Regions from separate parts of the Homo sapiens genome. Here region 2 is linked to region 1. Evidence: fine-mapped expression QTL. A gene starts in region 1. The other region holds a variant in brackets. All regions are shown on one strand. Distances are between the middles of the regions. Region 1 holds the start of ADAM17 (ADAM metallopeptidase domain 17). Region 2 overlaps ADAM17 (ADAM metallopeptidase domain 17).

Region 1 (4,273 bases):
CACGCCATTGCACTCCAGCCTGGGCAATAAGAGCGAAACTCTTTCCCCCACCACCCCCCCCCAAAAAAAAGAAAAGAAAATGGATCGGGATTTTTTTTTTAAACGGCATTTACTAAACAGCTAAGTACCTTCTATGAGCAAGGCACTGTACAAGAGCTGTTGGGGATACCAAAATAATACAATCTACGATCTACTAAAGTTACAAGCCGGACATTATGGTGACTGGATGTTCAGAAAAGAAACCAGATGACATTATTATGGTACACCAAAAAAGCCCCCCAAAAACCGTACTCAACTGTCACATTCTTATGGAATACAATTTTTACAGATTGTATACAATTTGCATGTGAAATTCTGCTTACTTTTTGACTAGGTATGCCACTAATGGGTATGTTTAATAAAGATATTTTATACTTCAGATGTACAGACCAGGTCCGGTTAATTTTAGCCAACAATGTATTGTTGAAAAAGACGCTGATATTTTACTGCGGCAAACCACCATTAACATAAATTTTAACCACAGTTTGAGTATTTTATTAGGAATAAGCCTTGAAACTTGAATAGGACTAGTATTCCTAACAATTTACCGTTTCATAATAAAGGCTGTCTCACTCTTAAGTGGAAAACGTATTATGTCCTACTTTTATAAACTTTGGTTGAACTAAATAAAACAGCAACATGTACCCAACGTTTTTAGACTGTTTTATTCAGTACCATAAACATTCACTAAACTATACAGAGCTAAAATCATGCAAAAGATTGCAAAACAAACTGCCTTGGGAAATTTCCAGTCTAAGCTAAATGGACCAAGTATAGGATTGAATTTTAAGAAGTTGGTGGGAAGATTCCAGCTCTTGTACTCACAGGTAAGGTCCTAGGATTCTATTTGTTGAAGTGTCTGCAGACCCTCTCCCTACAGCAGGGGCGTGGAGCAAATGTGCATTCAGGAAGTGCTTATTAGTCCCCCCAAAACCTTTTTCGTGACGACAGACGGATGGAGGCCTCAGACGACTCCGGCAGTAGGACCCTGAACCAAATGCCTGAGCTGCGCTCGAAAGGCTCGTCTCGCAGGAGCTGGCGAGTGGCACGGGCTTCGGTGGCCGGGCTCGGGGCTCGGGGCTCGGGGCCCGGGGCCGGGGGGGGCGGGGGGTCCGTGCCCAGGGCACTCTGTGGCTCGATTCATGTCCCCGCCCTCCCACCTGAGCACACTGGGCAGAGAGCCTGCGGCATCGGGCCAGTCGCGCCTCCTCGTCCGCCCTGGGCAGGTCGCTGGGCCCCAGGCCGCTTTCTACAGCTCCTTTAATAAAATGGACAGCAGGGGTCCTAACCAGACGTGGGCATCAAGACAAAGGAGGCGGCCAGACGCGCTTGAGGGCCTGCTCGCTAGCTCCCGCCCCCCCATTCCGCGGTCACCCGGGGACAGAGGCCAGGCCGGACTGGGTGGAGTTGGGACTCATACGTCTGCGTCCAGGAAGGCGCCGGGCGAGCCCCAGCTAGACGTGACGGGCGGGGCCGAACACGGCAGCGGACCAGAGGCCCGCGGCGCACCGGCGTGGGGCGGGGCAAGCGGAGCCTCCCGGGATGCCGCGCGGCAGCCGGCTTCCGGCTGTGGGTGGTGCGGGGGACAGCGGCGGCCGGAAGCTGGCTGAGCCGGCCTTTGGTAACGCCACCTGCACTTCTGGGGGCGTCGAGCCTGGCGGTAGAATCTTCCCAGTAGGCGGCGCGGGAGGGAAAAGAGGATTGAGGGGCTAGGCCGGGCGGATCCCGTCCTCCCCCGATGTGAGCAGTTTTCCGAAACCCCGTCAGGCGAAGGCTGCCCAGAGAGGTGGAGTCGGTAGCGGGGCCGGGAACATGAGGCAGTCTCTCCTATTCCTGACCAGCGTGGTTCCTTTCGTGCTGGCGCCGCGACCTCCGGATGACCCGGGCTTCGGCCCCCACCAGAGACTCGGTAAAGACCCAGGGGAGTTGGCTTAGGCCGGCGCCTGGAGCGCTCGTTTGAGGGAAGAGCAGGGGAGCTGGGTCTATCAGGTGTTTGGGGGCGGGGTATTGGCGATGGTGGCGCGTCCCTAAGTTTTCAGTGTAGAAGGGGGTGTGGCTCTCGGAGTTTGGGGAAAGAATAAAGGAGATGGGCCTGTCTCTGAGTGGGAAAGGGCTACTGGACGGGCTCCATGTAGTGACTGAGCGCCTGAGAGGGGTTTGCTCCCTAGCTTTGTGTTCGGGGAGGGTGTTGGGAAAGCGGTAAGGAGTAGGGTGGCTGGATCTTGTTTGGAGAGGGAGATGTGGTCAGGGTTCTTGCCTTAGTAGGGAACAAATCTAGTGTTGTGTGTTCCTACCAGAGCCAGAAAGGAAGGGCCCAAAGCTCCAGAATTCTTCCTGGTCCTCGAAGGAGGGAACTAGAATTTCTGCTGTAGGAGGTACTTATGCAGTAATCTCGTTGGGAGGCGGAGACTGGAGTTGGAGTCTTAAGAGTTGTGTTTTTGCGAACATCCTAAGCACGTTCTTGGTTATTTCAATTGTAGCTTATTGGAGGTGCTTGGGAGATGGGGGGAGGCGGAAACCTGGTAAGCCAACTCGTGATGCTGCCACTATGAATGCTTTCCTTGCACTTTTAAACAAAGAAATTATCAAGAGTGACGAGTTTGATGAATTTAGAGGCTAGAAAGTAGAGGGTTCCTATTTCATTAGATTTTCCAGAGAGATTGGATTTTAAGGATGGAGATGCATTAAGGGATCTGAACTTTGGTGGAAGTAAGTTTGCGTGAACTTTTAGTGTATTTTAAAATCCTTTTATCTTTCAAAAATTGACGTGTAAGATACTTTAATTAGTAATAAAGTGTGAAATAATGTTTTCCCAGTGTGTGAAATTGTAGGCTTGCATGGTTGTACTGGTTCCCAAATTTCACCATGATACCATGTGTAGTATTTTTTTTCTTTATATTTAGTGGACAGAAATTGTAATGGATTGGTATGGATACTAAAGGTGTTGAGAGTGTTATCACTTGAACAGCTGTCTTATGATTCTTTCCGATTGAAATGGATTACAAGTGACTAATGAAAGGCAAGGGATCTTGTTAGGAAGTGCTGAGAAGTGGTAAGTCAGTACAAATTGAAGGACATTTTGAGGTAGGATTGTGGTTAGGATGGAGGGATAGGGTAAGGGTCTTCATTTTAAGGATAAATGTTAGTAAAAAGAATAAATATGTATTTTGAGATATTAAAATTATATTTGCACCACCCTGACACAACTGTTTCACTTATGTTATTAATCTGTTGTTCGTAGGTAAAAATAAGCATGAGTCCCAAGGAAGCATACAGTTTAAAGAGAAACATTACTTTCTAGATCAATTCATAACATTTGCAGATCGTAAGGTTTTTTAGACCATTTTTTTTTTCCAAGACAGAGTCTTGCTCTGTTGCCCAGGCTGGAGTGCAGTGGCGCGATCTCAGCTCACTGCAACCTCCGCCTCCCGGGGTTCAAGCAGTTCACCTGCCTTAGCCTCCTGAGTAGCTGGGATTACAGGCATGTGCCACCACGCCCAGCTAATTTTTGTATTCCTAGTAGAGACGGGGTTTCACCATGTTGGCCAGGCTGGTCTAGAACTCTTGACCTCGTGATCCGCCCACCTGGGCCTCCCTAAGTGCTGGGATTACAGGCATGAACCACCGCTCCTGGCCCATGTGTTTGTTTTTTATTTGCAAAATGCAGACCACCTGTGCCAGAAGAATGCATAGACTTTTCTTTTTTCTTTTCTTTTCTTTTTCTTTCTTTTTTTTTTTTTTTGAGGCAGTGTTTTGCTCTTGTTGCCCAGGCTGGAGTGCAATGGCGTCATCTCAGCTCACCACAACCTCCGCCTCCCGGGTTCAAGCAATTCTCCTGCCTCAGCCTCCCAAGTAGCTGGGATTACAGGCATGTGCCACCACGTCCGGCTAATTTTTTGTATTTTTAGTAGAGATGGGGTTTCTCCATGTTATTCAGGCTGGTCTCGAACTCCTGACCTCAGGTGATCAGCACACCTCGGCCTCCCAAAGTGCTGGGATTAAAGGCTTGAGCCACCAGGCCCGGCCTCTTTTTTTTTTTTTAAACGAAATATTTGAAGGACACACAAGTATTATACGTGGCATTGGAAATACAAAGATCAGACGATATCCATCTTCAAATGGTTATAGCATAGGGAAATAGACATTCATTTAGGACACTTCTAAAACAGCATAGAGGAGAGTGCTAGAGTACGTTATAGCAAGTGTTATCACCAAATGAATCTTAGAGATCAAG
Region 2 (4,273 bases), 25 kb after region 1:
AACTAATTTGTTAAATTTTTGTAGAGTGTATCAGATTTTTGATGAGGTCTCACTGTGTTGCCCAGGCTGATCTCAAATGTCTGACTGTAAGCAATCCTCTTGCTTGGCCTCCCAAAGTGCTGGGATTACAGGTGTGAGCCACTGTGCGCAGCCGTTAAATATTTTAAACCGTCACTGACTTTACCATAGCTTACTATTTATATAAATAATCCTGGGTTAAACTTGCATAGTGAGATAATATTTCCCCCAACTTTTATTTATTTATTTGAGATGGAGTCTTGCTCTGTCGCCCAGGCTGGAGTGCAGTGGCGCAATCTCGGCTCACTGCAGTCTCCGCCTCCCAGGTTCAAGCATTTCTCCTGCCTCAGCCTCCCAAGTAGCTGGGATTACAGGCACACGCCACTGTGCCCGGCTAGTTTTTATATTTTTGGTAGAGACAGGGTTTTGCCACGTTGGCCAGGCTGGTCTTGAACTCCTGGTCTCAGGTGATCCACCCGCGTCGGCCTCCCAAGGTGCTGGGATTACAGGCATGAGCCACTGCATCCGGCCTAATTTTTGTATTTTTAGTAGAGACGGGGTTTCACCATGTTAGTGAGGCTGGTCTTGAACTTCTGACCTTGTGATCTGCCCACCTCGGCCTCCCAAAGTGCTGGGATGACAGACGTGAGCCACCATGCTTGGCCTCCCCCAGCTTCTAGTTTTAAAAATGTTCAGCTGGTGCAGTGGCTCATGCCTGTCATCCCAGCACTTTGGGAAGCTGAGGTGGGTGGATCACTTCAGGCCAGGAGTTCGAGGCCAGCCTGGCCAACATGGTGAAACCTCGTCTCTACTAAAAATACAAAAATTAGCCAGGCTTGGTGGCTTGCGCCCGTAATCCCAACTGCTCGGGAGGCCTAGGTGGGAGAATCGCTTGAACCTGGGAGACAGAGGTTGCAGTGAGCTGAGATCGCTCCACTGTACTCCAATGTGGGTGACAGGGTGAAACTCTGTCTCAGAAAAAAATAAAAAAGAAAATGTGCAAATCTACAGAAAGATTAAAAAGTACCCTGTAGTTACAGAAAGATTTTTTTAAAAAATACCCTGTAGCCCTTAAACAATTTCTAACATAATGTCCTGTTAGCTTTCTCTCTTTTTTTCGTGAATCATATGAAAATCATTTGCAAACATCATGACCCTTCACCCCTAAATACTTCTGTATGCATCCTTAGGAATAAAGGCACTCTTTTCTATAGCTGTAATAAAAGTAACATACCTGAGAAAATGACAAGAATTCTACAATATTATCTAATAATCATGCCATAGTCAAAATCTCTAGTCATCCTCAAAATCTCCTTTGTAGATTTTTTTTGGTTTTCCAGTCCAGGATCCAATCCAGTTTTCTGCCTTTTAGTCAATTACTCATCAAATTATTTTTTCCAGCAACTTACTAGTAATAATGGTAATAGCCTTAGCTTTTATTAATAACAACCACTTTTCTTTTGAAATGTTAATATAAAACTAGATTTATTACCTACATAATCTTCATAATCTTCAAGTTAGGTATTATCACTACTTTACCTAATGAGGGAGGTTATGCTCAGGGTACTTGTCCAAGGCACATAGTGAGGTATGGTTGAGGTTTGAACTCAGATATATCTGATCCCAAAGCCAGCTGTCTTTTTCTGTGCTGGACTGACTATACTAGGAAACAATCAATGTGAACTTAGAAATGTTTGACCCAAAAGAAAAAAAATTTCACTCCTATTCATAGGCTAAATGAACTTTACTAAATATGGAAGATTCCTGTAGCCCGGAAGTTGGGTTAGTTAACTTTTGAGATCTCTGCCAACCCTGAAATTCTGTAACCCTTGTTTCTTACATCTGCCTCATACATGGATTACCAAAGATGTATATGCATATAATATTTAACAGTTTTATTGAGATAAAATTCACATACTATATTATTCACCCACTTAATGTATACAATTTTGTAGTTTTGTGTGTGTGTGTGTGTGTGTGTATTTTTGAGATGGAGTCTCACTCTGTCACCCAGGCTGGAGTGCAGTGGCACGATCACTGCAACCTCTGCCTCCTGGGTTCAAGTGATTCTGTGGCCTCAGCCTGTTGAGTAGCTGGGATTACAGG[C/T]GCCCACCACCATGCCCGGCTGATTTTTGTGTTTCAGTAGAGATGGGGTTTCACCGTGTTGGTCAGGCTGTTCTCGAACTCCTGGACTCAAGTTATCTGCCCACCATGGCCTCCCCAAAGTGCTGAGATTACAGGCGTGAGCCATCGCGCCCGGCAGTTTTCGTATATTGATGGAGTTGTGCAAACACCACCTCATTCAATTTTAGAACATTTTTATCACCTGAAAAAGAAACGCTGTATCCTTTAGCCATACTTCCCCCTTCCTCCCTAACTCCCCCAGCTCTAGGCAACCAGGGATCTACTGTCTATTTAGATTTGTCTGTTTGGGTCATCTCATATAAATGGAATTACATAACATGTCTTTTGTGTGTGGCTTCAATTTTTTTATTTTTTTGAGATGGAGTCTTGCTCTGTCACCCAGGCTGGAGTGCAGTGGCATGATCTCAGCTCACTGCAACTTTTGCCTCCTGGGTTCAACTGATTCTCTTGCCTCAGCCTCCCAGGTAGCTGGGATTACAGGCTCCTGCCACCATGCCTGACTAATTTTTGTATTTTTTACTAGAGTCGGGGTTTCACTATGTTGGCCAGGCTGTTCTCAAACTCCTGACCTCAAGTGATCCACCTGCCTCGGCCTCCCGAAGTGCTGGGATTAAAGACATGAGCCACCACGCCCAGCCTGTGTGTGGCTTCTTTCACTTAGAATAATGTTTCCAAGGTTCATCTGTGTTGTAGCATGTATCTGTATCTTATTTATTTTTATTGCTGAATAGTATTCCATTGTATGGATAAACTGCATTTTGTTTATTCATTGATTAGTTGTTGATGGACATTTGGGTTGTTTCCACTTTTTAGCTATATTTACATTACTGCTTGTGTTTTCATTTCTCTTGGTTATATACTAGGAGCAGAATTGCTGGGTCATATGGTACTTCTACTTTTAACCTTTGAGGACCTGCCAGACTGTTTTCTAAAGTGGTTTTACCATTTTACATTCTCATCAGCATATGTGAGGGTTCTGGATTTCTCTACATCCTCACCAGTATTTGTCTTTGATCATAGTCATCCTAGTGGGTATACAGGGGTGTCTCATTGTGGGGGTTTTTTTCCCCATTGGGGTTTTGATTTGCATTTCCCTGATGGAGATAAATATATTTTTTGTGTGTCCCCCCACAAACTGCCTGGTTCTGATGAGACCAGTGTTCTTACAGAGAATAACTTTGCTTTGAAACAAAACAAACAAACAGCCTTTTGACTTGGGTAACCTTTGGAGTATGTTAATTGTGATTTACTCTGGCCTTGTAACATTGTAAGTGGAGATTTTGTTTAAAAACTGCGTTCGCTGAAACAAGTAATAAGGTTCAGACCTATTGTTACAAGTTCTGAGTTTTCTTTCATATAAATATGTTTGTTCTTTTGTGTGGATAAAACCTAACGTGGCAAAAAGGTGTCAAACACCTAAGTATTAAGGAAACTAAAATGAAAATGCTGCATGAACAGAAACCTTGTCCAATTTTCATTACTATAGCACCATCACCTATAACAGTGCCAGTGTACAGTAGATATTACATAATATTTTTGAATGAATGAGTGGAAAATGATATGCATTTTTCTCTTCTGCATCCTCTGAAAGATTTCACAACGTGCAAAGTATGTAAGGCTTTATTTATATACAGATAAAATAATCAGAGTTTATAATCTATGTATTTACTTTCCTGCATAGAAACTCCATATGATTAAAAATTGAGATTATTTATTTTAATAACATGACTAATCAGTTTACTTAACCTAGAAATGAATGTTATCTAAGAACAAGCAAAGAATGTTAGAAGAATTTAGTGTTTAGGAATTATTATTGTTTTCCATCTCAGTCGTATATATTTTCTGTTTTAGCCACTTTGGAGATTTGTTAATGATACCAAAGACAAAAGAATGTTAGTTTATAAATCTGAAGATATCAAGAATGTTTCACGTTTGCAGTCTCCAAAAGTGTGTGGTTATTTAAAAGTGGATAATGAAGAGTTGCTCCCAAAAGGGTTAGTAGACAGAGAACCACCTGAAGGTAAGACTTAAAGAGTGTATTTCAAATAAGAAACAAACATACTACAATTGACTTCAGTAGGGGTGGTTGTTATTTGTTAAAAAATAACAT

Evidence for each region. PIP is the estimated chance that this variant, and not a neighbour inherited with it, causes the effect. A credible set is the group of variants that fine-mapping cannot tell apart.
Region 2: its variant is the best candidate, but not a certain one, in a credible set for the expression of ADAM17 in whole blood (TOPMed, PIP 0.52).

What each region holds. Positions count from the first base shown.
Region 1 is chr2:9,553,184-9,557,456 of GRCh38, reverse strand. It overlaps ADAM17 (ADAM metallopeptidase domain 17), which reads left to right and starts at 1,627. Exons shown (of 19, transcript NM_003183.6): 1 at 1,627-1,948. The coding sequence starts at 1,852. RefSeq lists silencers at 703-997, 969-1,188, 1,419-1,708, 2,323-2,617.
Region 2 is chr2:9,527,696-9,531,968 of GRCh38, reverse strand. It overlaps ADAM17 (ADAM metallopeptidase domain 17), which reads left to right. Exons shown (of 19, transcript NM_003183.6): 5 at 4,015-4,183. Among named protein-coding and RNA genes, the nearest start is that of ADAM17, 26 kb to the left of the region's middle. The variant C/T (reference allele first, on the strand shown) is at 2,125.